Linked DNA regions of Homo sapiens: region 1 is linked to region 2. Evidence: fine-mapped expression QTL. A gene starts in region 2. The other region holds a variant in brackets. All regions are shown on one strand. Distances are between the middles of the regions. Region 1 has its middle 24 kb from the start of NOA1. Region 2 holds the start of REST (RE1 silencing transcription factor).

Region 1 (15,292 bases), 46 kb after region 2:
CCTGGGCGACAAAGCTAGACCCCGTCTCAAAAAAAAAGAATACGTCTTAACGTTTTGGATTTGTTTGAAAATGTTCTTCGTTCTTGGGCCTGTGAGCCTGCTGTATTAATAGCCTTGCTATTTGTCTCAACTGATTCACTTATTAGAATATCACTTGAGTTGAAGACACTTGTAGTCGGCCAGTGTCTCTTGGTGTCCCAGAACCAATAACTGACTCTAGAAAGCAGGAAGCCGTGAGAGCAACAAATGTCCCCCAAATGGCTATCTGCTTGCTTGGTGTCCACTGGACCCTTGTGTTGTATTTTGCTTAATTTTAAATCTTTTAAAAATGTAAGCTGCTTTTTGTGCTGTCCTCTCCTGTTTCATGACCAGCCACAGCAGTAATAGCACTGATAGCAGTAATAGGCATAGGAATTTTCTTTCTTTCTTTTTTTTTTTTTTTTTTTTTGAGACGGAGTTTCCCTCTTGTTGCCCAGGCTGGAGTGCATTGGCACAATCTTGGCTCACTGCACTCTCCACCTCCTGGGTTCAAGCGATTCTCCTGCCTCAGCCTCCTGAGTAGCTGCGACTACAAGCATGCATCACCACGCACGGCTAATTTTTGTATTTTTTTTTTTTTTTTTTAGTAGAGATGGGGTTTCTCCATATTGGCCAGGCTGGCCTCAAACTCCTGACCTCAGGTGATCCGCCCTCCCAAAATGCGGGGATTACAGGTGTGAGCCACCGCGCCCAGCTGCATTTTCTGTCTTAATCCTGCACCTTTTGGGTGTTTTCCTCATCTGCAGGGCATGCCTGCGTGTATGCACGTGCGGGCACACACACGCGCGTGCACCTTTAAATTCTTCACTGAGGCTTGCTGGAGTTCTGTCTCTGGTGGGTAGATGGCTTACAGCAGGCAGCGCAAGATCCGTCCACCCCATTCAGATAAAGACAGGGATTTCAGGGCCGTGGTCCCTCAAGTCAATGAACTCCAGAGGAAAGGACTCTTCTGGAGATACCAGAAGACTCTGGTATGAGCAAAGCCCAGACTCTCCTGGGCTGTACTCATGTTACAAGAAAGGGATCCCCCAGCCTGGCCAGTACGGTGAAACCCCATCTCTAGTATAAATACAAAAATTAGCCGGGCGTGGTGGCCTTTGCCTGTAGTCCCAGCTACTCGGGAGGCTGAGGCAGGAGAATCGCTTGAACGTGGGAGGCGGAGGTTGCAGTGAGCCAAGATCGCGCCACTGCACTCTAGCCGGGGCAACAGAATGAGACGCTGTCTCAAAAAAAAAAAAAAAAAAAAAAAAAGGCGGTCCCGATCCAGACCCCAAGAGAGTGTTCTTGGATCTCGCGCAAGAAAGAATTCAGGGCAAGTCCGCAGTGAAAGCCAAGTTTATTAAGAGAGTAGACGAATAATGGCTGGGCGCAGTGGCTCACGTCTGTAATCCTAGCACTTTGGGAGGCCGAGGCGGGCGGATCCCGAGGTCAGAAGATTGAGACTATCCTGGCTAACATGGTGAAACCCCGTCTCTACTAAAATACAAAAAAATTAGCTGGGCGTGGTGGTGGGCGCCTGTAGTCCCAGCTACTCGGGAGGCTGAGGCAGGAGCATGGCGTGAACCCGGGGGACGGAGCTTGCAGTGAGCCAAGATTGCACTCTAGCCTGGGCTACAGAGCAAGACTCCGTTTCAAAAAAAAAAAAAAAAAAGTAGAGGAATAAAAGAATGGCTACTCCATAGACAAAGCAGCCCCAAGAGCTGTTGGTTGCCTATTTTTGTGGTTATTTCTTGATGACATGCTAAACAAGGGGCGAATTATTCATGCCTCCCCTTTTAGACTGTGTAAGGTAACTTCCTCACGTTTGTAAACTGTTATGGTGCTGGTTGGAGTGTAGCAGTGAGGACAACCAGAGGTCACTGTCGTCGCTAGTTTGGTTTTGGTGGGTTTTGGCCGGCTCCTTTACTGCGACCTGTTTTATCAGCAAGGTCTTTATGACCTGTAGTTTGTGCTGATCTCCCATCTCATCCTGTGACATAGATGCCTTAACTATTTGGCAATGCAGCACCTTAGGTTTTAGCTCATTTTACCCAGCTCCTATTTAAGATGGAATTGCTCTGGTTCACATTCCTCTGACATTTCCCCCGGCCCTTTTATAGGAGAACCCTTAATCCTAAAGGTTGCAGGGGGATTAAGATCTATCTTCTGTAACTTCTTCAGGCTGAATAGGGGGCGAAGATATTTCTGCCTAACTATGAGGGTCTCTTGCTAATTAGGGTAGAGAGGAGCTCAGTCAGAAAGCATCAGTATGGTAAGGTCCATTCATAACTCTTGAGTTTTGACAAAAGGTGATATCTGGAAGATTAGTGTTTAAGAAAATATTTAGTAAGCTTGTCCTGTATTCCTACACAAAGAGTATAACAGCAATATATTGCACAAGAGTAAAGCAAAATAAGTAAAGTTATTCCAAGTAAACTAAATTAGAAGGCTTTTCATGAACTGGGCAACTGTTGGAACTAAGCTGATACAGGGTTGTTAGCTGATTGTAATGTGTCCAGAATAAGAATATTGATCCAGATTTTTACATTACCCATCCTCTTGTTTCTTCAGAGCAGCAGTCAGAGATTACTGCTTGGTTCACAGGAATAAGCAACGTTAGCCTAAATCGCAGAAACAAACTTAAAAATAACTAATGAGACTAGAATTTAATAACAAGTGTAGCATAGTTCTTGAAACATAATATTTCTCTCCAGTTTCCTATTTTTACTAAAGAGAAATCATGATAAGACTGATTTGCTTTATTATACTTGGCCTGATTATATGTATAAAGTGCAGCAAGAATAATTATTTTTTACATAAGCTCTTTTTAAATTGGCTTTGATGGAACTCTGTTCCATAGAAGGAATTTCAGATAAGACTTTTTTTCTTTTTGCTATTAACTTTTTTTTTTTTTTTTTTTTTTACCATTCATTCAACTGTTTGCTCAGAGAGAAACCAGAAATCTGACTGGTAAGAAATTCTTATCTTTTTCCCGGGATGCCAGGCTTCTGGGTTCCCTTTCCCTGAGTGGCCCTAGTGATGTGGCTTGTGGCACCATCGCCCTGGGGGCCAAGCAGCATCATAAAGGTAAATTTTTTTTTTGTTCTGGCTAGAGCAAAATATGTGTGATAAAACATAGACATTAGCCATTCTGCTTAGCACCCAATATCAAACTGGCAAGGCTTAAATTTGCCCCTAGATGGACCCTGTCATCTTTTTTTCTCTTCTTTCTTTCCTTTTTTTTTTTTTTGACAGAGTCTTGCTCTGTCACCCAGGCTGGAGTGCAGTGGCATGATCTCAGCTCACTGCAACCTCCGCCTCCCAGGATCAAGTGATTCTCCTGCCTCAGCCTCTTGAGTAGCTGGGATTACAGTCACGTGCCACCACGCCTAGCTAATTTTTGTATTTTTAGTAGAGACAGGGCTTTACCATGTTGACCAGGCTGATCTCGAATGCCTGACATCGTGATCCACTCGCCTTGGCCTCCCAAAGTGCTGGGATTACAGGTGTGAGCCACCGCGGCCGGCAACCCTGTCATCCTTAATCCAGCCTCCGACTTGGAGTTTCAACACATGGACTCTGGGCAATATGGTTGCCCTGAGTAGCAGAAAAGATTAAAAAGAAAAAAAAAAGGGAAAGGAGAGAGAAAAAAGCATTGCCTGTGGCAGGGTGGGGAAGGCAAAATGCTCAGAGAGGCCAGAGAAAGACCCACCCATTGCAGCAACACTGAAAAGTTCAGGTGTCTGCGGCTGCTGTCATGAAGGTATCTTTTCCGGCAGTCGCATCAGCTCTCAAGTTTCCCCTTATAGGGAGGAAAAAGCTCCCCATGACCCACGATCCTGTACATACCTAATCCTGTCACCCACAGCCATCAGCAAAGAATGCAAGGCAGATTAATACAAAGAGCGTAGCCTGCAGTGCCAAACCCCTTTTAGTTGAGAGGTAGACTTTACTGAGAGGGGTCTCTAACCCCCTAAATCTTAGAAGGGACTCTAACCCGCTGTTAGTCAAGCATCCTTGCCTTTTATTAAGAGGGGCCTCTAAACTACTCTGTCTTAGGGGAGACTCTAACTCCCCTAAGTTGGGTCTCTAACCCAATCCCATTCTTTACCTGGGTACCCCACCACTTACCCAAAGTCGTCCAATCACTGCTGGAGTCTATTTCCTTTGGGTCAGGGGGTCTCCTCGGTATTGCCCCTTTTGTGGTTTGCAAGATAGATGTTACCAGACCCCACTACTTACCCAATGTTAGCCTTTGGGTCGGGAGTTCCTGCAGTATAGTCACTTCCCTGGTCACCAGAAAGATGTTACAGGACCCCAACATTCACCCAAAGGTAGCTGTTGGGTCAAGGTTTCTGCACTATAGTCTCTTCTGTGGTCACCAGAAATATGTTTCAGGAAAGGGGGTCCCGATCCAGGCCCCAAGAGAGGGTTCTTGGATCTCACGCAAGAAAGAATTCAGGGCGAGTCCACAATGCAAAGTGAAAGCAAGTTTATTAAGAAAGTAAAGGAGTTGGGCATGGTGGCTCACCCCTGTAATCCCAGCACTTTGGGAGGCTGAGATGGGTGGATCACTTGAGATCAGGAGTTCGAGACCAGCCTGGCCAACATGGTGAAACCCCGTCTCTACTAAAAATACAAAAATTAGCCTGGCATGGTGGTGCATGCCTGTAATCCCATCTGCTCGGGAGGCTGAGGCAGGAGAATTGCATGAACTCAGGAGGTGGATGTTGCAGTGAGCTGAGATCGTGCCACTGCACTCCAGCCTGGGTGACAAAGCAAGACTCTATCTCAAAAAAAAAAAAAAAAAAAAAAAAAGGAAAGGAATAAAAGAATGGCTACTCCATGGACAGAGCAGCCCCGAGAGCTACTGGTTCCCCATTTTTATGGTTATTCCTATGCCAAACAAGGGGTGGATTATTTATGCCTTCTCTTTTTGGACCATGTAGGGTAACTTCCTGATGTTGCTGTGGCATTTGTAAACTGTCATGGCGCTGGTGGGAGTGTAGCAGTGAGGATGACCAGAGGTTGCTCTCATCACCATTTTGGTTTTGGTTGATTTTGGCCGGCTCCTTTACTGCAACGTGTTTTATCAGCAAGGTCTTTATGACCTGTAATTTGTGCTGACCTCCTGTCTCATCCTGTGACTTAGAATGTCTTAACCATCTGGGAATGCAGCACTGTAGGTTTCAGCCTCATTTTACCCAGCTCCTATTTAAGATGAAGTTGCTCTGGTTCACACACCTCTGACATTCATACCTATGTGGGCAATGTGCCTTGTAGCAGAACCTGGAAAATCTCAAGATATTCCCTGAGACCTATGCAGATCCCCAGATTTCAAGTCTTGCCAGAATGCTTGATCACTTTCATTAGAGTAAGTGGCCTCTTCAAACTTAATAACCTTGTAAATATATGATGAAATTAATTCATAAAGCATTTAAAAATCACCTTTTGGCCAGGTGTGGTGGCTCATGCCTGTAATCCTAGCACTCTGGGAGGCCGAGGTGGGCAGATCACTTAAGGTCAGAAGTTAGAGACCAGCCTGGCCAACATACTGAAACCTCGTCTCTACTAAAAATACAAAAATTAGCCAGGCATGGTGGTACACGCCTGTAGTCCCAGTTACTCGGGAGGCTGAGGCAGAAAAATCGCTTGAACGAAGTGGAGGTTGCAGTGAGCCGAGATTGTGCCACTGCACTCCAGCCTGGGCGACAGAGCAAGACTCCATCTCAAAAAAAAAAATTGGCTTTACACCTTTTTGACCAATGTTTTTTTCATCTTGATAGTTTTTACACTAACTGATGGGGACAGTTCAAGTAGTTTCTTTTTGGATTTCAACACTATCACATCTCTAGATACCCCAATATAAGATTCTTTTTTTTTTTTTTTTTTGAGATGGAGTCTCGCTCTTTCACCCAGGCTGGAGTGCAGTGGCGCGATCTTGGCTCACTGCAAGCTCTGCCTCCTGGATTCACACCATTCTGCCTCAGCCCCCCAAGTAGCTGGGACTACAGGCACCCGCCACCGCGCCCGGCTAATTTTTTGTATTTTTAGTAAAGACGGGGTTTCACCGTGTTAGCCAGGATGGTCTTGATCTCCTGAACTCGTGATCCGCCCACCTCGGCCTCCCAAAGTGCTGGGATTACAGGCGTGAGCCACTGCACCCAGCCCCAATATAAGATTCTAGTAAAACATGGAGTTGAAGATGGATTTAGGAACAAAGGGACCTCCTATATGGTTCTCCTTGTTCCCTGCCTCCCCTTCTGTCTCAGTATGGGCCCAGTGTGCTCTGGCAGGACAAGCGGGTGTGGGGAGGGGAGGGATAGAGATGCGAAAATGCTGGCAGATGGCCACTGCTAAAAGGGGTTCTGAAATTACTTCCAGCCACACGGCCTCCCCACCTCTCTCCCTGGTTATGGAGCCAGGAAAAGAAACGAGTTTGTATGGCTTCAGGACCCTCAGCTTGAACTCTGCCTCAAACCCTTGTCCATTTTTCTTTCTTGGAGAGCAGTAGGATACTATTTTGAGACATGAAGGCCCTTCATTTCTGTGTTCTCATTACCTTCCCCATTACAGAGACTTCCCAGGTAGAGGACTTCCTAGGATAGCTTTCTTCTAGTATAAGTACTGGAGCTAGAGGGAGAGATAGCCCAGAATTGAGTCTGCATGGATTTTTTTTTTCATTGAAATTTACCCAAGTAATATGTACACATTAATAAGTAAAAACAAAATATTCCTAAAGGATTTATGATAAAATCAAAAGCTGAAAATCTCTCCCCACTTCTTTGCTCGTCATATAGCAGCTCTGTGTATCAGACTTCTGAGGTAAATTTAAATTAGGATAATATTTCTCTTTTTTTCTTTTCTTTTCTTTCTTTCTTTATTTTTTTTAAGACGGAGTTTCATCTTGTTGCCCAGGCTGGAGTGCAGTGGCGCAATCTTACCTCAACACAACCTCTACCTCCCAGGTTCAAGCGATTGTCCTGCCTCATCCTCCTGAGTAGCTGGGATTACAGGCATGCACTACCATGCCCAGCTACTTTTTATATTTTTAGTAGAGATGGGGTTTCACCATGTTGGTCAGGCTGGTCTCGAACTCCTGACCTTAGGTGATCCACCTGCCTCTGCCTCCCGAAGTGCTGGGATTACAGGCATGAGCCACTGTGCCTGGACTCAGTATTTCTTATTTGATAGATTTATATTGGATTTTTTTTTTTTTTTTTGAGATGGAGTCTCACTCTGTCGCCCAGGCTGGAGTGCAGTGGTGCAATCCCGGCTCACTGCAACCTCCACTTCCCAGGTTCCAGGTTCAAGCGAGTCTTCTGCCTCAGCCTCCTGAGTAGCTGGGACTACAGGCACACGCAACCACACCCAGCTAATTTTTGTATTTTTAGTAGAGGCGGGGTTTCACCATATTGGCCAGGCTGGTCTCGAACTCCTGACCTCGTGATCCACCCATCTTGGCCTCCCAAAGTGCTGGGATTAAAGG[C/T]TTGAGCCACCGTGCCCGGCCTGGATTCACTTTCTATAGGCCAATTAGATAGCACATTATATTTGTATTTTCTTCAGGGTGATCAACGCCAAAAGCTTGTGATGGATTAAAATAGCCACAAATTCCAGTACATGTTTGAATCTGTGCTGCCATTGTGACTTGCTTTGACCAATAAATGCAGCAGAAGTGGCACTGTGTGACTTTGAGCTTCGGCCTCCAGAGGCTTTGCAAGCTCTACTCTCAGGCTTTTTGTGAACACTGTCACCTTGTGAACAAGCTTGAACTAGCCTACTTGAGGATGAGACCCTTGGAAGAGAGAGTGATCAATGGAAAATGCCTCACTTGCTCAGCTGTTACAACCATCTCAGCTGAAACTCCTGTGCGTGAGGTCAGCCTGGCTGTGTGCTGTGTGCAAATGCATGTCGCCACAGAGCAGAAGTACCATTGAGCGGAGCCTAGATTAAGTTGCCAAACTAAAGAATGGGAGCAAATAATCGCTTGGTTCAAGTCACCAAGTTTCAGGGTGGTTTGTTATTCAGCAATAGATGTGGATATAAACCTAATCATGTCCTCAAACCTAGTTAATAAAAAAGAAGCATTTTCAACGAACAAATGAGCAACTGTACCTAGAAGTGACTTACTCCATGCCCAACGGGGGAGTTAGTGGGTACATGGGACAGTTACACATTGTTCTCCTTTGTTGAACAGTCTCTTGTCCACGTTCCCATGCTGAAAAATTTTAACACATTTCTCAGAATTAGCTTTACATAAAGCTTTATTTATCTAATGAAAAAGCTAGTGTTTCAGTAAAATACATCTTTTATCTGGTATTTTAAAGGAAAGCAGCCCCATTTCTTTAATTTGCCTTCCTGTTGAGTATTTCACCATAGTTTTTTTTTTTTTTTTTTTTTTTTAAAAGACAGAGATTCGCTCTTGTTGCCCAGGCGGGAGTGCAATGGCGCGATCTCAGCTCACTGCAACCTCCGCCTCCTGGGTTCAAGCGATTCTCCTGCCTCAGTCTCCCGAGTAAGCTGGGATTACAGGCGCCCGCCACCATGCCTGACTAATTTTGTATTTTTAATAGAGATGGGGTTTCTCCACATTGGTGAGGCTGGTCTCAAACTCCCAACCTCAGGTGATCTGTCTGCCTTGGCCTCCCAAAATGCTGGGATTACAGACGTGAGCCACCGTGCCCGGCCTCACCACAGAGTTTAAAGTCGAAGACAGGGAAAAAAAAGATAAATCTATTTAGGTCAAATGCTAAATGCTGAGCAAAACTTGCAATAATAGAAAGCTTTTAATTGGACAACCCAGTAACTCCTGTTTAGGGAAAGTCAGTAAGATGTAGCAAGAAACAGGCAACTGGATTGAGAGCTACACAAGTAGGAAAAGCAGGGGCATTTAAACAAGTTCAGGGCCAAATTATCAAATTGGTTTTTGAGGCTTTTTGATTTGCAAGTAAATGGGGATCACCGGTTCTAATCTCATGAGTAGGATTAGGATGAAAAATTACAGTCTCTTTTCTATGATAGTTTAGTGTAATTTTTGGATGTTTGCTTCCCAAATTTTCTGTATATCGAATTTACTATTTTCTTAATCAGAATTGTGGGTAAGGATTTCCATGCATGCTGTGATCTGTCCGTGGTACTTGGCAAGCTCATCAGCAATGTGAAAGATTCCCAGCCAGCCAGGGAAGCACAGTCCATTTAAAGCCATCTGAGGTGGTGAGAGAGCATGGAAATCAAACTGGGATACCTGTTTTGGTTTGGGCAGCAGTGCTGAAGTAAGACAGCAAGGGCACAGCACATTACACACACACACACACACACACACACACACACACACTGCTCTGAGACAAATGCTCAGGGAGAAATTATATATGGTAGAATTCAAAGGAAGCCAGAAGGAGATTAAGTGGTAGTTGTCCAGAATTCCCGAGAGAATTGTGCTATTATCTTTGAAGGTCTTCAAAGTAGGTTTCCTTCCTAAGGTTGAAAAATTCTCACCTTTAGATTTGTTGATGGGTTTTAGTATATAGAGGAATTACTGTGCAGTGGTTGAAGACATGGATATTGATGGAACTGTTCTTTTTTTTCTTTTTTTTGAGATGGAGTCTCACTCTGTTGCCCAGGCTGGAGTGCAGTGTTGTGATCTTGGCTCACTGCAACCTCTGCCTCCCGCGTTCAAGGGATTCTCCCTGCCTCAGCCTCATGAGTAGCTGGGATTACAGGTACCCGCCACTATGCCTGGTTAATTTTTGTATTTTTAGTAGAGACGTGGTTTCACCATCTTAGCCAGGCTGGTCTTGAACTCCTGACCTCATGATCCACCTGCCTCAGCCTCCCAAAGTGCTGGGATTACAGGCCACTGTGCCCGGCCAGAACTGTTCTATATTGTGATTATGGTGGTCATTAAACAAACATATACGTGTGATAAAATCCATAGAACTGTACATGAAAACAAAGTCTGTTATAATTAAAAACCCCAGGCTGGGCACACGGTGGCTCACACCTGCAGTCCTAGCACTTTGGGAGGCCAACTCAGGAAGATCGCTTGAGCACAGGGGTTTGAGACCAGCCTGGGAAATATAGTGAGACCTTGTTTCTACAAAAAATTAAAAAATTAGTTGAGTGCGGTGGCGTGTGCCTGTAGTCCAGCTACTTGGGTGGCTGACATGGAAGGATTGCTTGAGCCTGGGAGGTGGGTGCCATAGTGAGCTGAGACTGTGTCACTGCACTCTAGCCTGGGTGACAGAGTGAGAACCTTTTTCAAAATAAAACAACGAAGCCCCACATGAGTTCTGGAGATAGAGTGCCTGGGTTTGTTTGAATCACAGCTCCATCACTTATTAGTTAGATCCTGGGTAAGTTATTTGTGCCTCAGTTTCCTCATCTGTAAATGTGGGTAATAATAGTATTTCTGCATGGGGTTGCTGTAAGGATTCAGTTAATATATGTAAAGCACTTGAAAGAGTGCCTGGCTCATTTTATTACTATATAAGTGATAGCTATTATTATTATTATATAAGTATAAAGGAGTAAAAAGATATATGGGCTATCATATGATTATAGCAACTACGAGTAATCTGAAGTCTGAAATACAACAACCATGAGGTACTGGCTTTATGCAGGAAAGGAAGAAACTCTATAAGAGGTTAGTGTAAATGCTACTAAGCAAATTTAAGTTTGCTCTTTCCCTATTTTCCAGGGAAGGCAAAAACCAAGCAAACAAAAAAATCCTCTCACTCTATTGATCCATTCATTGAATGTCTGCTATTTTCTTTTTCTTTTCTTCTTTTTTTCTGAGACGGAGTCTCACGCTGTCGCCTGGGGCTGGTGTGCAGTGGCACGATCTCGGCTCGCTGCAACTTCTGCCTCCCAGGTTCAAGCAATTCTCCTGCCTCAGCCTCCCGAGTAGCTAGGATTACAGGCATGTGCCACCTTTGTATTTTTAGTTGAGACGGGGTTTCACTATGTTGGCCAGGCTGGTCTCAAACTCCTGACCTCGTGATCCACCTGCCTCGGCCTCCCAAAATGCTGGGATTACCGGGGTGAGCCACCACGCCCAGCCATGCCTGCTATTTTCTAGGGCTTACTGAAAGGTTAGAAAGGATCTTGGCAGTCTTTCACTTCCATATATTTCACTTCCAATATCACCTGACACATGATGATGTATTCTCTAACGTGTCTGCTTGTTTTGTGTATGTGTGACCTCAGTTTTTTCCAATTTACCACAGCTACCAGGTAGAGGTACTGACGGTGTCTGTGATTAAGCATCATACTATTACAGCATCTACCAATAAGAATATTAAGACCAAATAAATTCTCCCACTAGATTGACTACACAGTAGGTAAATTCGGAGAATTATTTGCGAAGCCAAAAGCAGCTTTTGAAAGCAGGAACCTGGGAATCCAAGCAGTGGGTGTTTTGAGGATGATCCAGATACACTTAGGAGTATTCAGATCATGAAACTCCATGACATGAAGGGAAAAGGTGAGGCATCACTGCAATATGATGTTAAAATAGTAATCTTGGCCTGGTGTGGTGGCTCACACCTGTAATCCCAGCACTTTGGGAGGCTGAGGTGGGAGGATTGGTGAAGCTAGGAGTTTGAGACCAGCCTGGGCAACAAAGTGAGACCCTGTCTCTACAAAAATAAAAAATTTAGCTGGGTGTGGTGGCACCTGCCTATAGTTCCAGCTACTCGGGTGGCTGAGGCGGGAGTATCACTTGAGCCCAGGAGGTCAAGGCTGCGTTGAGCTGTGATTACACCACTACACTCCAGCCTGGGCAGCCGAGTGAGACCCTGTCTCTGAAAAAATAAAACAACAACAACAAAACAAAAAACAAAAAAACCTATCTTGAACCATTCCCCTCTCACGACAAGGTCTTAATGGGGGCAGATAATATGACAGAGAGACATTCAGAGCAGGCAGAGGTGTCATCGATTTGATTCACGAGTCTGAAATCTTGTTTTTAATGTTTAAGCATTACTCTTTGACAATTGAGAGAAAACAATCCCCCTGGGAGGAGGAAAGTGGCCAAAAGAAAATGGAACAGCTGAGAAAGAATGGAAATGATTCTAATGCTCCACGACACAGAGCCAAGTGGGAGGGAAGCCAGGGTAAATGATCCGAGCCCGTCTATGAAACAGCCCGCCTCAGCTTGCGCGCTGGGTGCTTACTCAGTGAAGCAATAACAACTCTGTCATGGCTGACACAGCTGGAGCTCCTCCATGTTAGTCAGCTGCAGGAAACCAGCCTATGTCCATTGTGCAAGAAGAGTCTGAACACTAGAGACACAGGCACACAAGATTGCATCTCTACTCCGCTTCTCCTTGGTTGTTATGGGAAGTGAGTGTCTCAAGTTAAATAAACTAGACTCTGGGGAACTATACAGTAAAGACTTAGTGATCGGCACAGCTTGGCATTTATGGTGATTAAAGATACAAAACATATTACAACTTTAATTTGTCTTAGTAACTTTGAAGAAGATGTTGTTATTTTAGTTTAATTAGAGGGGGGAAAAGCAGAGGGATTACGTGTAACTTTTTAAAATAAAACTTTGAACCTAATATCACATAAAAGTCAAAAAGTACTTTGATGGAATTTATTTTACTTCTTTTGGGTGTCATGAATACAAAAGAGGTGACATGCTCAACACCACAGTGCTGCAGAGCCAGGTAAACAATCTAGAATAAACTTGCTTCATTGTTTTCTAGCAACCCCTAACCACCTCTGTGATCTGTGGAAGTGAGGAGTTGGTACTTTGCCCTTAATTTCTCCTCCCGTTCCTGGCCAGAAGAGCCCACTAATTCTTGTACCCTGTCATAGTGTAAGTGACTACTGATTCAAAAGATGTCGTTATATTCAGATTAATGGATAAAGAAGTACAGTCATGTATCGCATAATGACTTCTTGGTCAGCAATGGGCCACATATACAGCCGTAGTCTGGTAAAATTATAATGGAGTCAGAAAATACCTATTGCCTAATGATTTGTGTTACAATTGCCTACAGAATTCAGTACAGCAACATGTTGTACAGGTTTGTAGCCTAGGAGCCATAGGCTATACCATACAGCCTAGGTGTAGAGTAGGCTATACCATCTAGGTTTGTGTAAATACACTTTATGATGTTTGTCCAAAGATGAAATTGCCTAACGATGCATTTCTTAGAACACATCCCTGTTGCTAAGCAATGCACTACTGCACCAATACAGTAATGGAACTTTCTTAAAGGAAAATCTACTAGGAAACACTTGATCCTAGCAGTGATCCTAGGCTGCATTAAATTGGAGGCACAATATGGAATAAATTAATACCAGATCCCAGTAGAAGTCCTCAACTAATTCTAGGCATAGAGCATCTTTCTCACTCTTTTTGCTGGCTTTCTTTCCTGCTTTTTTTTTTTTTGAGATGGAGTCTTGCTCTGTCACCCAGGCTGGAGTGCAGTGGTGCAATCATGGCTTACTGCAGCCTCAACCTCCCAGGCTCAAGGGATCTTCCCACCTCAGCCTCCTGAATAGCTGAGACTACAGGTGGGTGTCACCATGCCCAGCTAAATTAAATTTTTTTTTTTGTAGAGACAGGGTCTTAACTATGTTGCCAGGGCTGGTCTTGAATGCCTGGCTTCAAGGGATCCTCCTGCCTTGGCCTCCCAAAGTGTTTGGATTATGGGTGTGAGCCCTGTTTTCTGAAATACATTTTCTTAAGTTGTCAGGGTGATAGTAGTCAGTTTTTAGATTGTTTCTCCACAAAGGCCCAGTTCACCCTTTGCTGGCTTTCTTTCCTGCCTGTTTTTTGTTTTAATTCTACCTAAATATCCTGGCCTAAGCTCTGAACTGTGAACTCCTGTTTTCAACCATAGGTAGAAATATAATGACCATAATTTTTTTTTTTTTTTTTGAGATGGAGTTTTGCTCTTGTGCCCAGGCTGGAGTGCAATGGCACGGTCTTAGCTCATCGCAACCTCTGCCTCCCGGGTTCAAGCGATTCTCCTGCCTCAGCCTCCCAAGTAGCTGGGATTACAGGCATGTGCCACCACACCTGGCTAATTTTGTATTTTTTTTTTAGTAGAGATGGGGTTTCTCCATGTTGGTCAGGCTGCTCTCGAACTCCCGACCTCAGGTGATCCACCCACCTTGGCCTCCCAAAGTGTTGGATTACAGGTGTGAGCCACCGCACCCAGACACAATTTTAACTTATAAAATAAATGGTATTTCATTCCCTCCAAAATAAAAACTAGAAATCAACTGCCAATCAATTTTCTCCATTTGGGAAGCTGCCGCCCTCTAGAGGTAATATGATGTTGGGGGCACTTTCCAGTTGTCACCAGGACTGACAGCAGAGGGAGTTGCTACTGCATTTAGTGTCTGGGATGAGAGATACCAGACATAATGAAATGCAGTTTTTTTGTTTTTTTTTGAGACGGAGTCTTGCTCTGTTGCCCAGGCTGGACTGCAGTGGCGCGATCTTGGCTCACTGCAGCTTCCGCCTACCAGGTTCCAGGGATTTTCCTGCCCCAGTCTCCGGAGTAGCTGGGACTACAGGCACGCGCCAGCGCAGTCAGCTAATTTTTGTATTTTTAGTAGAGACGGGGTTTCACCTTGTTGGCCAGGATGGTCTCAATCTCCTGATCTCATGATCCGCCCGCCTCGGTCTTCCAAAGTGCTGGGATTACAGGCGTGAGCCACCGCGCCCGGCTGAAATGCAGTTTTATATATAAAGAAAGAACCACCTTGCCCAAGATACCAGTAGTACTCACTTTGAAACACTATGAAAGGTCTACAACAAGTTGCATCATCTTAAAAAATTCTCCATTATATTTAATCTAAGAGGACTTAGAAGAGGACTGAGGAGTGGGGAGAAGACAGGAGAGTGTGAAATACATGGGGGCTCCCATATGTTGGGACAGAACATGGTCCTCTCAGGAATTTCATGGCTCTAACTGCGTTTCAGCCTAGCTTATCTTACCAGCATTTATTTCAACATTAGGATCTGGGACTTGACTTGCCAATTCTTCATGACACAGCTGTGGTACTACTTACTCAGCTAGGAATAACAAAAGGTGTAGACTTTTTCTTTTTTCCTTTTTTCAGACAGGGTCTCGCTCTGTTGCCCAGGCTGGAGTGCAGTAATGTGATCATAGCTCACTGCAGCCTCCATATCCCAGGCTCAAGTGATCCTCCTGACTCAGCCTCTCCAGTAGCTGAGATTACAGGCACACAGCGCCACACCTGGCTAATTTTTTTGGGTTTTAGTAGAGATGAGGTCTTGCTGTGTTGC
Region 2 (15,292 bases):
CAAAAATTAGCTGGGTATGGTGCCGGGTGCCTGTAATCTCAGCTACTCCAGAGGCTGAGGCATGAGAATCACTTGAACCTAGGAGGAGGAGGTTGCAGTAGACTGAAATCGCGCCATTGTACTCCAGCCTTGGGGATAGAGAGACTCTGTCTCAAAAAAAAAAAAAAATTTGTCTTTTATGTTGCCAGTATGTCTTTTGTCAATTTGATTTGCATGCCGCCAATGATTAAACCTAAGAGGATAGGCCGGGAGCGGTGGCTCACGCCTGTAATCCCAGCACTTTGGGAGGCTGAGACAATGGGTGGATCGCCTGAGGTCTGGAGTTCGAGACCAGCCTGACCAACATCGAGAAACCCCGTCTCTACTAAAAATACAAAATTAGCCAGGTGTGGTGGCGTGTGCCTGTAATCCCAGCTACTCGGGAGGCTGAGGCAGGCAAATCGATTGAACCCGCAAGTGGAGATGCGGAGGTTGTGGTGAGCCAAGATCATGCCGTTGCATTTCAACCTGGGCAACAAGAGCAAAACTTCATCTCAAAAAACACAAAAAACACAAAAATTAGCTGGGCGTGGTGGTGTGCGCCTGTAGTCCCAGCTACTCAGGAGGCTGAGGCAGAAGAATCGCTTGAACATGGGAGGCAGAGGTTGTAGTGAACCAAGATCGCACCACTACACTCCAGCCTGGGTGACAGAGTGAGATTCTGTCTCAAAAAAAAAAAAAAAAAAAACAACCTAAGAGGATAGAGGAAAAGTTTTTCCTCCCCAACAATATCATTCTATTGAATGGGTAGATACAAATTTGCTTTTCATTCACAGTCTAGACTACTTTTAGGTTGTTTCTAGTTGTTAGACACCTCCCATTTGGGTCTTTAGGTACCACAGGTTTTCAGTTCTCTTGTGTAAATATCTAGGAATGTGATGACTGGATTATATGCTAAGTGTCTATAAGAAAATTCAAGTTTGCAAAAGTGTTGCATTTCCAAAGTTGTTAACAACAGTTTGCATTTCCATCAGCAATATTAGAGTCATAGGCTAGGCAGGCGGTTCACTCCTATAGTCCCAGCACTTTGGGAGGCCAAGGTGGGAGCATCACTTGAGCCCAGGAGTTCAAGACCAGCCTGAAAAATAGTGAGACTATGTCTCCACAAAAAAGAAATTTTAAAAAATTAGCTGGGTGTGGTAGGTCGTACATGTAGTCCCAGCTACTCGGGATGCTGAAGGGGGAGGATCGCTTGAGTCCAGGAGGCAGAGGTTTCAGTGAGCTGAGATCATGACACTGCACTCCAGCCTGGGTGATGCAGCAAGATCCTGTCTCAAGAGAGAAGAGGGAGAGAGAGGAAAAGAGAGAGAGAATTCCAGGTGCTCAGTATCTTTGTCGCATTGTTTTTTTTTTTTTTTTTTTTTGAGACGGCGTCTCGCTCTGTCGCCCAGACTGGAGTGCAGTGGTGCAATCTTGGCTCACTGCAACCTCCGTTTCCCAGGTTCACGCCATTCTCCTGCCTCAGACTCCCAAATGGCTGGGACTACAGGTGCCCACTAACACGCCTGGCTAATTTTTTGGTACTTTTTAGTAGAGACAGGGTTTCACCGTGTTAACCAGGAAGGTCTCGATCTCCTGACCTCGTGATCTGCCCGCCTCGCCCTCCCAAACTACTGGGATTACAGGTGGGAGCCACTGTGCCCGGCTGTAAAGTGCTGTGTTTCGATCTCAGCTTGCTACAACCTCCACCCCCTGGGCTCAAGTGATCTTCCCACCTCAGCCTCCCGAGTAGCTGAGATCACAGGTGCACACCACCACACCTAACTTTTTGTATTTTTGGTAGAGACAGGGTTTTGCCATGATGCCCAGGCTGGTTTTGAACTTCTGACCTCAAGTGATCTGCGCCCCTTGGCCTCCCAAAGTGCTGGAATTATAGGCATGAGAACCGCACCCAGCCCTTGTTGCATTTTATACTTAGCTTTTTAAACTTTTAGCCATTCTAGTAGGTTTAGTGATAATTTTTAGACAAACAAGGAAAATGTACAGGTTCATTAATCTAGGAAACATTTATGCATAAAGCCAGTGCCTGGCTTTAGCTTTGGGTTGATACACTTTGCCAGAAGTTTGATTTTATTTACTGTGTCAGGAATATCAGCATGTTGAGAACACACAACACAGTTTCTTGTCTCTAGACCCTCTCAGACAGATGAGAAAGACATGGGAAAGAAAACAGGCGCAAGAGTATACTTATGGCACTTTAGGAGTTCATGTGGGAAGGTTTTAACCTCTCCTTGGGAAGAAGGGAAAGGTTGCCAGAAGTTGTCTTCTGAGTCAAGTCCATATTCCTCTAAATTGATGATTAGCTTTGTAAATTAACATGTCAATGTTGGCTCTTGAGTGTTTTAAATGCCATGGAAGACAATAAGGGCTTCTGCTTCCCAAGCCAGAAGGTAATAAATCTTTTTTTTTTTTTTTCGAGACGTGGTCTTGCTGTGTCACCCAGCTGGAGTGCAGTGGTGTGATCCTGGCTCACTGCAGCCCCAATCTCCTGCACTCAAGCAATCCTCCTACCTCAGCCTCCCAAGTAGCTGGGACTACAGGCACACCTCACCACACCAGCTATTTTTAAAAAATTATTTTTACTAGAGATGAGGTCGCACTGTGTTGCCCAGGCTGGTCTCGAACTCTTGGGCTCAAGTGATCTTTCCACTTCGGGCTCCCTAAGTGCTGGGATTACAGGCGTGAACCACTGGGCCTGGCCCAGAAGGTAATTAATCTTAATATAAAAAGTAGGCTTCAGAGTTATGGAATTGCGGATCTGAAAAGTCCCCCTATCTCAAATATATACATCTCTAAAGCCATTGTACATAGTGGCCCATCAGGCCCCAAAGATTAAAAGATGTTTTCGGGAATAGGGCCAGGGTAGAGCAGAAAGAAGACTGGACAAAGTGTCTGAGAGACATGGAAAGAGCACCGGACTGGCTGGAAATTGAGTCATGGGTCCTACCTCCATCTGTGCCCTAACTACTTGTGCAAACCTGGACAAGCCAAAAGCTTGTAGGCCTGTCTCCTTTTACATATAAAACAAGAGCCTGCACCTCTAAGATCTCTTGCATTTGTGACATTTTGTGGCCTACATAACATTTGGAGGGAGAATTCTGGAAGGAAGGACAATGGTAAAGGCCAGAGAAGAGAGAGGCAGAGCAATGCAGTTGATAGGCTATGTAACTTGTATTTAAACCCATCAAATGGAACGATACCTAAGGTTGAAACATTTTTTTTTTTTTTTGAGATGGAGTTCTGTTCTTGTTGCCCAGGCTGGAGTGCACTGGCACGATCTCTGCTCACGCAACCTCCGCCTCCCAGGTTCAAGCCATTCTCCCGCCTCAGCCTCTTAAGTAGCTGGGATTACAGGCGTGTGCCACCATGCCCAGCTCATTTTGTATTTTTAGTAGAGACAGGGTTTCTCTATGTTGGTCAGGCTGGTCTAGAACTCTCGACTTCAGGTGATCTGCCTGCCTCAGCCTCCCAAAGTGCTGGGATTACAGGCGTGAGCCACCGCACCTGGCCAAAACAGATTGTTAATGATCACCAAGGAATATCCAACCAGAGGCTGATGCGTGAAATCAGGAATGTGCTAGGAATACAATATGCAGAAGAGCAGGCAGGGAGATTTTCACCAGGAGGGTAGAACCCCAAGACCAGGGATCCAGGAGCATTAATTTATTTAACAGTAGTTATTAGGGAGATTCAAGGAGGCAGGCTCATGCTTAACATGAGGGAAGACTGTGATGGGTACTGAACGTTGGGTACCGACATGGGTAAGGATGGTCCCCACTTTGAGAGATTGTGATACCAAGCTAGGATTTTGTAACCATTCATCTAACTAATATTTGTTGAGCAACTAACGAGTTATAGGTGCTGGGGATAAAAAAATGTCTCTGCCTTTCTGGAGCTTAAGTTCCTAAGTAGGGTAAATAAATAAAAATACCTAGCATGTTAGTAATAAATGTTAGAGACAGAAACAGCAGGGAAGGGCATTAGGATTGGACGAAAATGGGAGCAGAAACAGCAGGGAAGGGCATTAGGATTGGACGAAAATGGGAGCGGGTTCCAAATGTGATCTAGGCTCCAAAAGAAGGCAGGAAGGAGCCCAGCTCAAGTCTCAAGTTCTCTTGTTCACCTCCTTCCCTTCTCAGCATGAAGGGAAAACCTCCCTGGCTCAAGCTGTTGATGCCTATAATGAGTAAGACACTATTCCAGTTATCAGAACCAGAACAAGAGGTCAGAGTCCAACCGGCAGCAAGAGTAGATGATGCTGGCTGGACTCGGTGGCTTACACAGGTAATCCCAGCACTTTGGGAGGCCGAGGCGGGTGGATCACCTCAGGTCAGGAGTTCGAGACTAGCCTGACCAACATAGTGAAACCCCATCTCTACTAAAATACAAAAATTAGCTGGGCGTCCTAGCGGGTGCCTGTAATCTCAGCTACTCGGGAGGCTGAGGCAGGAGAATTGCTTGAACCCAGGAGGCAGAGGTTCCAGTGAGCCAAGATCTTGCCACTGCATTCTAGCCTGGGCGACAGAGCAAGACTCCCAGGCGGGGTGGCTCACACCTGTAATCCTAGCACTTTGGGAGGCCCAGGCAGGTGGATCATCTGAGGTCAAGAGTTCAAGACCAGCCTGGCCAACATGGTGAAACACCATCTCTACTAAAAATACAAAAATTAGCCAGACAAGGTGGCACGTGCCTGTAATCCTAGCTACTCGGGAGGCTGAGGCAGGAGAATCACTTGAACCCGGGAGGTGGAGGTTGCAGTGAGCCGAGATCGCACCTTTGCATTCCAGCCTGGGTGACAGAGCAAGACTCCATGTCAAAAAAAAAAATAATATATATATATATATATAATTGGCCAGGTGTGGTGGCTCACGCCTGTAATCCCAGAACTTTGGGAAGCCGAGGCAGGCGGATCACCTGAGGTTGGGAGTTCGAGACCAGCCTGACCAACATGGAGAAACCCCCGTCTCTAACTAAAAATACAAAATTAGCTTGGCGTGGTGGCACATGCCTGTAATCCCAGCTACTCGGGAGGCTGAGGCAGGAGAATTGCTTGAACCCGGGAGGCGGAGGTTGCGGTGAGCCGAGATCGTGCTATTGCACTCCAGCCTGGGCAAAAAGAGCCAAATTCTGTCTCAAAAAAAAAAAAAAAAAAAAAAAGAAAGAAATCTCTCTAGAGAAAATACTATTAAGAACATATGATAATTAAAATAAAAAAATTGATGAGTTAAATATGCAGGAAAAAAACCATATAAGAAAAGCAGAACTCATTCTCATTTCAGAGTTTTTATCTTGCAGAAGATCCTAAAGTTTGGATACAGCAAAGTAAAATACAGACTTTTGAAAAACAGTTAGGAATTCAAGTTCATAGCAACAGCTTCCCTCAAGAAAATTTTCAATTGATTTGTAATTTGGCCTATGAATTTGACCTGTGGCCTTCATGTCATGATAATTTGGGTCACTCTGAATATGCCATCCCTTGAACAAGGGCCTCTGCTAATTTTAAATGAATGCAGCTGCCCATTCGCCATTCTTCTATTTGCATCACAATATGTGGGAATAAATTTGCAATTAATAAGACATTTCCAGTAAGCAGTCAGATTGAGGAAATGAAGGACATTTAGTAAGTTTAACAAGAGACATTTCATTTTTGCCTTTTTGGACCTAAAAAAGGGAAAGAAAACAAGTTTATGTCTTTGACAACCTTGGTAGAGGCCTGAATTGTACCCTGGGCTACAGCATCTAAAAAAGCCATGTGACCTCAAACTTGATTTTAGTTAAACAAATAAAATATATATAGAAAAGTTTGTACCAGTCCTAAAAATGTCGATCTTCCTTTCCTCCCTCCCTCCCTCCCTTCCTTCCTGTCTCTTTGGTTCAATGAAAATGAATACTTTTCAGGTTTGATTCATGGAGAGGTGTTACATTTGAAATTGCCTCATTGAAACTTTTGGTGGTCGAGCACCTTAGGGTCTTCATTTCATCTTGCATCGGAGACTGCATTAATTAGTAATATATTGTCCAGATAGAGGGAAACAGAGGTCCTACGTGGGTATACCAGGAAATGAAGAGTCTGGAAGCCCTGCCCTAAGAGAAACAAATAAAGGAACTTCAAAGAGAAGGAAGTGAGGTACCCTGAGGAGAAGCTGGGATGTCTTAACAACTGCTTTGGGATTTTGAGCTTGCCCTTTTCACTGTGTAGAGTGTTCCTTGCCCTACTTTCCACCTGTTGAAGTTTTCCTCATTCTCCAAGGTCAGACTGAATACATCTACTGTGAAAAGTTTCTAGAACCTCTTGGGATCCATCTTCCTACTGGCAAACCCCCATAGCACTTGCTACTTATGTTGTAATACCAAGCAATAGTCAGACTTATCTAGGTCAAGTTAAGTAGGGGCTTGAACGCCACACTAAGGGGTTTAAGCTTTAAGCTTGTAGTCATGGGGAGCCACTATGCTTCTGAGGACAGGTGTGACTTACGACTGACGTTTAGGAAGGTATCAAAGGCAGACTGAGAAGCTCTTTCAGGTGTGAAAGGGGGTGGAATTACTCTCTCTCTGTTCTTTTTTGTTGTTTTTGTTTTTGTTAGCACATGACTATGGGCTAGGCATTCCGCTTGGTTATCCCGCTTCATAGACGTGAGCCCGGTTACTCCGACACACCGTGGCCCCAGGCAGCCTCCCCGTCCTCACCACCTTTTCTTCTGTCATCTGAGGGTAATTCCTCCCCTGCAGTCGTGCTTTCCGGGCTCAGCAATGACCTGCTACCTGCCACGTCTAGGGATCTGTCCCCTCAGTCCTCACGCTCACGCTTTCTGAGTCCATAACCTCCTTCCTGAAACGTTTTCTTCTCACTTCTCCCAAACTGACTGCATTCCCCCTCCGGTAGTTTGAAATTTGGAAGACTTTTTTTTTTTTTTTTTTTTTTTACCGCAGACGCTTAAAACGAAGCTTAATTAGTCAAGGACAGCTATGGGTGGAGACTTGAAGAGATCTGAAGGGTATCTTGGAGCGCTTTAGACTTGAGAGGCCGGTGACAATAGCTCTAAAGAGACCCGTCAAAGCCTGCGGATTCTTCTTTTAACAGCTCTATTCTCATGCATGCACGCCAGGGCTGGGGGGAACTTTTGTTGTTTGTTTGTAATAGAAATCGAGAAAGGGAGTGGGGCCCGCCTCTTTTCTGACCTAAGGGCAGGAGTGAGGGGCCGGGAGGATTACGGGCGGCTCCCCCTAGACGCGCCCCCAGGCGAGCTGGAGACTGGGGCACTCCTTGCTTGGTAGAGGGGCGGGGCGCGCCTAGCGGCCACGCGCGCGGGCGTCGGAGGGGGCGTGTCTCGCGGGCGCGCGCGGGCGTCGGAGGGGGCGTGTCCCGCGGGCGGTGGCGGCGGCGGCGGCGCGGACTGGGTGCGCGGCGCAGCGTCCTGTGTTGGAATGTGCGGCTGCCGCGAGCTCGCGGCGCAGCAGCGGAGCGAGCGCCGCCGAGGCCCGGGGCCCCAGACCCTGGCGGCGGCTGCCGCAGCCGAGACGGCAGGGCGAGGCCCGGAGGCCTGAGCACCCTCTGCAGCCCCACTCCTGGGCCTTCTTGGTCCACGACGGCCCCAGCACCCAACTTTACCACCCTCCCCCACCTCTCCCCCGAAACTCCAGCAACAAAGAAAAGTAGTCGGAGAAGGAGCGGCGACTCAGGGTCGCCCGCCCCTCCTCACCGAGGAAGGCCGGTAAGTGGGGCGCTGGGCTGGGGGCTCGGTCAGGGTGGGGGAGGGCCGCCCGGGCGGCGGCAGTGGCGGGACGGGGAGGGCGCGGAAGGACGCGGAGTCAGGCGCTGTCCAGGGCTGATTTGCAGATACTGTGGCTCCGGCGGCGGCGGCCCCGCCGGGCGGGGGCTGGCGGCCGAGCAGGATCGGGTTACACAGCAGCCGCCCGGGGGCTGGGGGCGTTTGTTGGGAGCAGCGCGTCGCCTGGACCCCCTCCCCACTGGAGGCTGGGACGCCGCCTCCGCGCTGGCCCGGACGCTCCACCGAGTCAGGTCCTTTGAGGCCAAGGAGCGGAGCTGCTCGGGCCCGTAGTCCTGAAACTTCCTCTGCTTCCTCCTCCTGCCCCCGGGTCCCACCGCAGCCCCGCGCCGGCCCGCGGCCCTCCTGGCCCCCTCCCCCAGGGCCTCTCCCTGTCGCCGGAAGGCGCCGTTGAGTGCGGCCGGGCGGGTTGAGTCAGCCCCGGGGCCCGGGCGGTTCCGCCTGCGGGGCTGGACAGCGATTTCTGCGCTTCAGCCGTCCGGCGCCGCTGGCCCCCGCGTCCGGCCACCCGACCGCTGGAGCTGGCGGGGCTGGGGCGCGCGTCCTGCCGGGCGCCGTGGGGGAGTGAAGTTCGCAAACTTCCGGGGCGCGGGGGTGGCGGCTGGCCCGTGTGGGGGCCCCCTCCGGCGCTCGGAGCCCGACGCCTCGCGAGGGCGCCCGCGGAGCCTCCCCGGCCCTGGGCGTTGGGCGAGCCCCGGGGCGGTCGGAGGGGCCCGGGGGCGGTCGGAGAAGCCCGGACGCCGGCTGCGCGGTAACTTTCCGTCCTCTCCCGGGACGGGGGCCCTAGGGCTGGGGAGGGGGCTGCCTGGACTCGGGGAGGACTGGTTCCGGCCAAACAGCGCCTCGAGCTTGATCCCCTCCCCCGTTTTAGTGTTGGAGAGCGCAGGAAAAGGCTCAGGACGAGTGTCGGGGCGACTCCCGCGAGTTGGTGTGTAAATGTGTGCAGTGAGCGGGCCGAGGCGAGAGGAAGCGAGAGCGCCCGAGTTTGCAAAGAGCTGCTTTGTGTTTGGTATTTTGAGAAAATGGCCGAATGCCTATTTCAGTTAGGAATGCCGCCGCCGAGGCAGGCGCTGGTGGCAGCAGCACGGAGGAATTCGTGCAGCACGTTGGGCTTTCGGGCTGTGCCTGGACGGTCTTCCTAACAATCGTTAAAATTCCATTTGGGGTGGCAGTTAGGGGTTAGGGAGCAATTAGAAAAGTCGATGTTGGGCCAAATTACCCAATAGCTTGGGCTGTTCAGCCCCGGGACAGCCTTCGCCCTCTGTTTTCTGTGATGGCATTTGCTTCCAACTTTTGTTGGTACGTAGAACTAAACCGGTTTGTGTTTATACACTTGGGTGAAGCGGGTTACTTTTTGTATTTTCGGTTTAACTTTATTTTCTTAGAACTTCTTACTTTTTTTAATTTGCGAGTGAACACTTCGTTTGAGAATGGCACCTTTTAGATTGAGAAGTAACGTAGCATCTAGAAAGCCCAACTTGTTTTGAAGAAGGTGATCTTGTAATGGCTTCCACTAGGCAAGTAGGCCAAGTCAAGCACAATGCAAGAAAGTTGCTGATTGTCGAGTTGAGTTGCACGATGATTTTATTCGTATTGAAAAGCTTGGAATTCAGTGTTGTGGAACTTCAGCCTGCAGAAAAATAAGCTTATTAATTTTTATTTGTGAAGTTTTGAATAAATCAAACTTCCTTTTTCACAAGAAAAGGGGTCCATAAATGTTTTTTCTTTTAAGCCTGTGGAGTTGTCGAAAAATTAAGGGGCTGACTGCTACTTTTTCACAGTAGTTTATTCTTTTGGAGTTAGTTGAGTTCATGCGAAATCCAATTAAGTTGAACAATTATTACAGGCTTGTACTTTCCAGATGTGTTTGTGTACTTAATAAATGCACTGAATGGCTTGTGGATTTCTGGGCTTTCTGATTCAGACCATTGAACTGTTGAAGGGGGGAAAAGTTGGGAGGACAATAATTTACTACTCATGTTTTGAATTTTTAAAATAATTTTAACAGTAAAAATGAAGGTTACTTTTTATCCCCACCAGAACAATTAAAAGTGCTTGAGGAGGCACCACATGCCAGTGGCTGAATGATGAATGAGTTGTGCAAACAATTGGTAGAATTGTTTTATAGGGATAGTAGAAATTTTTTTTTGGTGATTGCAGTAGACTATTGGGAATTAACAACTATTTTAAAGATTTGTTTTTAATAGGCGATGAAGTTTACTGAGTTATAAAGATCATACTGGAAAATTTTTAAGTTATGAAGAATTACAGCGATGTGGTTTTAAGCCAGTAACAGTAGTGTTTAAACTGGTGCTCTTGTTTTGTTTTGTTTTTAATTCAGAATACAGTTATGGCCACCCAGGTAATGGGGCAGTCTTCTGGAGGAGGAGGGCTGTTTACCAGCAGTGGCAACATTGGAATGGCCCTGCCTAACGACATGTATGACTTGCATGACCTTTCCAAAGCTGAACTGGCCGCACCTCAGCTTATTATGCTGGCAAATGTGGCCTTAACTGGGGAAGTAAATGGCAGCTGCTGTGATTACCTGGTCGGTGAAGAAAGACAGATGGCAGAACTGATGCCGGTTGGGGATAACAACTTTTCAGATAGTGAAGAAGGAGAAGGACTTGAAGAGTCTGCTGATATAAAAGGTGAACCTCATGGACTGGAAAACATGGAACTGAGAAGTTTGGAACTCAGCGTCGTAGAACCTCAGCCTGTATTTGAGGCATCAGGTGCTCCAGATATTTACAGTTCAAATAAAGATCTTCCCCCTGAAACACCTGGAGCGGAGGACAAAGGCAAGAGCTCGAAGACCAAACCCTTTCGCTGTAAGCCATGCCAATATGAAGCAGAATCTGAAGAACAGTTTGTGCATCACATCAGAGTTCACAGTGCTAAGAAATTTTTTGTGGAAGAGAGTGCAGAGAAGCAGGCAAAAGCCAGGGAATCTGGCTCTTCCACTGCAGAAGAGGGAGATTTCTCCAAGGGCCCCATTCGCTGTGACCGCTGCGGCTACAATACTAATCGATATGATCACTATACAGCACACCTGAAACACCACACCAGAGCTGGGGATAATGAGCGAGTCTACAAGTGTATCATTTGCACATACACAACAGTGAGCGAGTATCACTGGAGGAAACATTTAAGAAACCATTTTCCAAGGAAAGTATACACATGTGGAAAATGCAACTATTTTTCAGACAGAAAAAACAATTATGTTCAGCATGTTAGAACTCATACAGGTAAGAGAAGCTTTCTAGTCCATAAGTTCAGTTCTCTTTTCTGATTGTTACTTGAGTGGTTAGTTAAGTAGTGCTTGAGAAAAAGGACTCTGGTTCAAATCCAGGTTCCATTTTGCTATCTTTGTGACCTTGCACAAGTTGTTTAACCTCTTTGTTCAGAAATTTCTCCATGGAGTAACAATATCTAGGTTGGGAGGATTATGTGAAGTTACATGTAAAGCACAGAGGAACAGCCAAGAGATCTTACCGTGGTCTTACTAAAGTACATATCCTAACTTGGGGTTTACCTTCAGCAAGTTAGACTGGCCGTGCATGGTGGCTCACGCCTGTAATCCCAGCACCTCGGGAGGCCGAGGCGTAAGGACTGCCTGAGCCCAGAAGTTCTAGACCAGTCTGGGAAACGTGGAAAGACCCCCGTCTCAAAAAGAAAACAGAAAAAAAAAAGTTTGTGTATTTATTTCTGTGACAGTGAACACATTTAAGATGCAGTGTAGTTTCTGAAAGAAATTGAGGGCTTATATAAAAAGGAAAACTCAGTGATTAACCTTGCACATGCCCACTTAACAAAAGCCTCAAACTTTAAAACATTTGACTTATAGCATTGAGTTCCTAAATGGAACAACTTGTCTTTGTCCACAAAAAAGAAATGTGAGAAGGTAGTTTTTAAAAGGTGGGTGGGATTATCACCAATTGAAACTATTTTCCTATGAAAGCAAACACTTGTAGAAAATGTATTTTTCAGACAATTATGTTTAGGGTGTTTGAACTGATACTAAGCGCAACTGTATAAAAAAAGTTGAAACTTTTTTTTTTTTTTTTTTTTTGAGACAGTCTGGCTTTGTCGCCCAGGCTGGAGTGCAGTGGCAAGATCTCAGCTCAGTGTAACCTCTGCCTCAGGGTTCAAGTGATTATCTTGCTTCAGCCTCCCTGGCTCAGCCTCCCGAGTAGCTGGGATTACAGGCACCCACCACCGTGCCTGGCTAATTTTTTTTTTTTGAGACGGAGTCTGGCTCTGTTGTCGAGGCTGGAGTGCAGTGGCATGGTCTTGGCTCACTGCAACCTCTGTCTCCCAGGTTCAAGCAGTTCTCCTGCCTCAGCCTCCTGAGTGGCTGGGACTATAGGTGCCCACCACCACACCCAGCTGATTTTGTATTTTTAGTAGAGATGGGGTTTCACCATGTTGCCCAGGCTGGTCTTGAACTCCTGACCTCGTGATCCGCCCACCTCAGCCTCCCAGAATGCTGGGATTACAGGCGTGAGTGCCACCCCTGGCTAATTTTTGTATTTTTAGTAGAGATGGGGTTTTGCCATATTGGCCAGGCTGGTCTCAAACTCCTGACCTCAGGTGATCTACCCACTTTGGCCTCCTAAATTGCTGGGATTATAGGGGTGGGCTACCGCACCCAGCCGAAACTTTTTTTTTTTTTTTAATTTCTTTTTGTGGAGATGGGGGGTCTCACTATGTTGCCCAGGCTGGTCTTGAACACCTGGCCTCAAGTGATCCTCCTGCCACAGTCTTCCCAAGTGTTGGGATTATAGGCGTGAGCCACTGTGCATACTAGTCATTCACTTTTAAATTGGGTTTTATTCAGCTGCTGTTCACTGTAGTTTTTTTAATTGGATTTATTTATTCATTTATTGATTTATTTGAGATGGAGTCTCACCCTGGAGCCCAGGCAGTGGTGTGATCACAGCTCACCACAGCCTCTACCTCCTGGGTTCAGGCAGTCCTCCCATCTCAACCTCCAAAGTAACTGGGACTACAGATGTGCCCTACCACACCCTAATTTTTTAAAATTTAAATTGGGTTTTAAATATTGTAATTGAGGGGCCTCATTTTTCAAATAAATGTTTTTAACTATTGGTAGCTCATTTGGACATTTCTGTTACATTTTCTTGGTAAGAATTGGTACATTTGGGTCCTGATGAATGGATAGAGAATAATCCAGTACTCTACTCTTGGGGTCACAAATGAATAGGGGGTGTGGGATGCTGTTTGCCTCAGGTCTCCTCTTACAGGAGTTGGCACTTGACAGGACTGAACCCCACTGGTAAAGGGGACACTGAGGAGGGGAATTGATGCTGCTTTAAGTGGAGTGGTAGACTTAATTTTTGTTTTGTTTTGTTTTGGAGATAGGATCTCCCTCTGTGCCCCAGGCTGGAGTGCAGTGACGCGATCTCGGCTCACTACAACCTCCACCTCCCAGGTTCAAGCGATTCTCATGCCTCAGCCTCCCCAGTAGCTGGGATTATAGGTGCCCACCACCATGGCTAGCTAATTTTTTGTTTTTTTAGTAGAGATGGGGTTTCACTATGTTGGCCAGGCTAGTCTCGAACTCCTGACCTCGTGATCTGCCTCGGCCTCCCAAAGTGCTGGGATTACAGGCGTGAGCCACCGCGCCTGGCCAGTTTTTTTTTTGAGATAGTTTTACTTTGTCACCCATCCTGGAGTGCAGTGGCGAGATCACTGCTCACTGCAGCCTTGACCTCCTGGACTTGTGACCCTCTCGCCTCAGTCCCCCAGGTAGCTGGGACCACAGACGCATGCCACCACACCTGGCTGATATTTGTATGGTAGAGACAGGGTTTCGCCATGTTGCCCAGATTGGTCTGTAACTCCTGAGCTCAAGTAATCTGCCCTTAGCCTCCCAAAGTGCTGGGATTATGGGTGTGAGCCACCGTATCCAGCGACTTAATTTTTAAAAATTTATTTTATTTACTTATTTTTTATATCCCAGATACTTAAAACTATTAACTGGCAGGCTTAAACAATAAAACTTGCAGGTGAAATTCCATTACAAGAGTGACCTCTGTTACAGGATTGCTAAGCCCCAGCAGATGGATGGCTCATGTGTTGAATGCTTTAAAATTTAGTCCAGTAAAAGAATTTGTAGTCCCTTTGGAATTTGTCATAAGCTGTGATTGATTGTCTCGATGCTTTGAAACCATTCGATTTCAGAAGTAAAGGTCAAGCATTACAAAAATACATAAAGTAGGAAATGAAAGTTACTTGGGGACACAACCCCATTAATCACTTGACAGTTTGAATTAGACAGACTGTTAGACTAAACCAGCCTTACCTACAATATCTTAAATCCCAGCCATCATATATACTAAACTCATAAATAAGTACACCATATTCATTTAGCTGGGATTACAGGTGCCTTCCACCATGCCCGGCTAATTTTTGTATTTTCAGTAGAGATGTGGTTTCACCGTGTTGGCCAGGCTAGTCTTGAACTCCTGACCTCAGGTCGTCTGCCCACCTCAGCCTCCTGAAGTGCTGGGATTACAGGCCTGAGCCACCAAGCCTGGCCTGGTTTATTTGGTCTTAATGCTTATTTTTCCCCAGTATTACCTTCATTCTGATTTTTTTTTTTTTTAACTTTTTTTTTTTTTTTTTTTTTGAGACAGTTTTACTCTTGTCGCCCAGGGTGGAGTGCAATGGTGCAATCTCGGCTCACTGCAACCTCCGCCTCCCAGGTACAAGCAATTATCCTGCCTCAGCCTCCTGAGTAGCTGGGATTCCAGGCATGCGCCACCACACCTGCTAATTTTGTATTTTTAGTAGAGACAAGGTTTCTCCATGTTGGGCAGGCTGGTCTCGAACTCCCGGCCTCAAGTGATCCACCCGCCGCGGCCTCCCAAAGATTACAGGCGTGAGCCACCACGCCTGGCCAATTTTGTGTGTGTGTGTGTGTGTATTTTTTTTTTTTTTTTTTTTTTTGAGATGGAGTCTTGCTCTGTTGCTCAGGCTGGAGTGCAATGGCGTGATCTCTGTTCACTGCAACCTCTGCCTCCAGGGCTTAAGTGATTCTCCTGCCTCAGCCTCCCGAGGAGCTGGGATTACAGGTGCGTGCCACCACGCCCAGCTAATTTTTTAAAAAATTTTTAGTAGAGACAGCGTTTCACCATGTTGGCCAGGCTGGTCTCGACCTCCTGACCTTGTGATCAGCTGACCTCGGCCTCTCAAGGTGCTGGAATTACAAGCGTGAGCCACCAAACCTGGCCTTTATTACATTTTAAAACAATTTGGTGATGTATAGATTGAAGGTTAATATTTTGATTATGTAAATTCTGAAAGTATCTCTGGTATTAAATGGATAGTTCTGAAAATTATGGAAAATAAACTCATCTGGTGCGGAAGAGTAGAGACAGAAAAGACAGGAATCACTTAAATTGATAGTGTTCAGGAATTACTTCTCATTTCCACTTGCA

Evidence for each region.
Region 1: its variant is fine-mapped to the expression of REST in nasal epithelium (TOPMed, PIP above 0.99).

Annotation. Positions count from the first base shown.
Region 1 is chr4:56,946,121-56,961,412 of GRCh38, forward strand. No RefSeq gene overlaps it. Among named protein-coding and RNA genes, the nearest start is that of NOA1, 24 kb to the right of the region's middle. The variant C/T (reference allele first, on the strand shown) is at 7,508.
Region 2 is chr4:56,900,463-56,915,754 of GRCh38, forward strand. REST (RE1 silencing transcription factor) reads left to right here and starts at 7,438. Exons shown (of 4, transcript NM_005612.5): 1 at 7,438-7,751; 2 at 10,168-11,074. The coding sequence starts at 10,177. RefSeq lists enhancers at 6,895-7,824, 8,755-9,684, 14,306-14,806 and silencers at 6,921-7,215, 7,315-7,704, 7,815-8,664.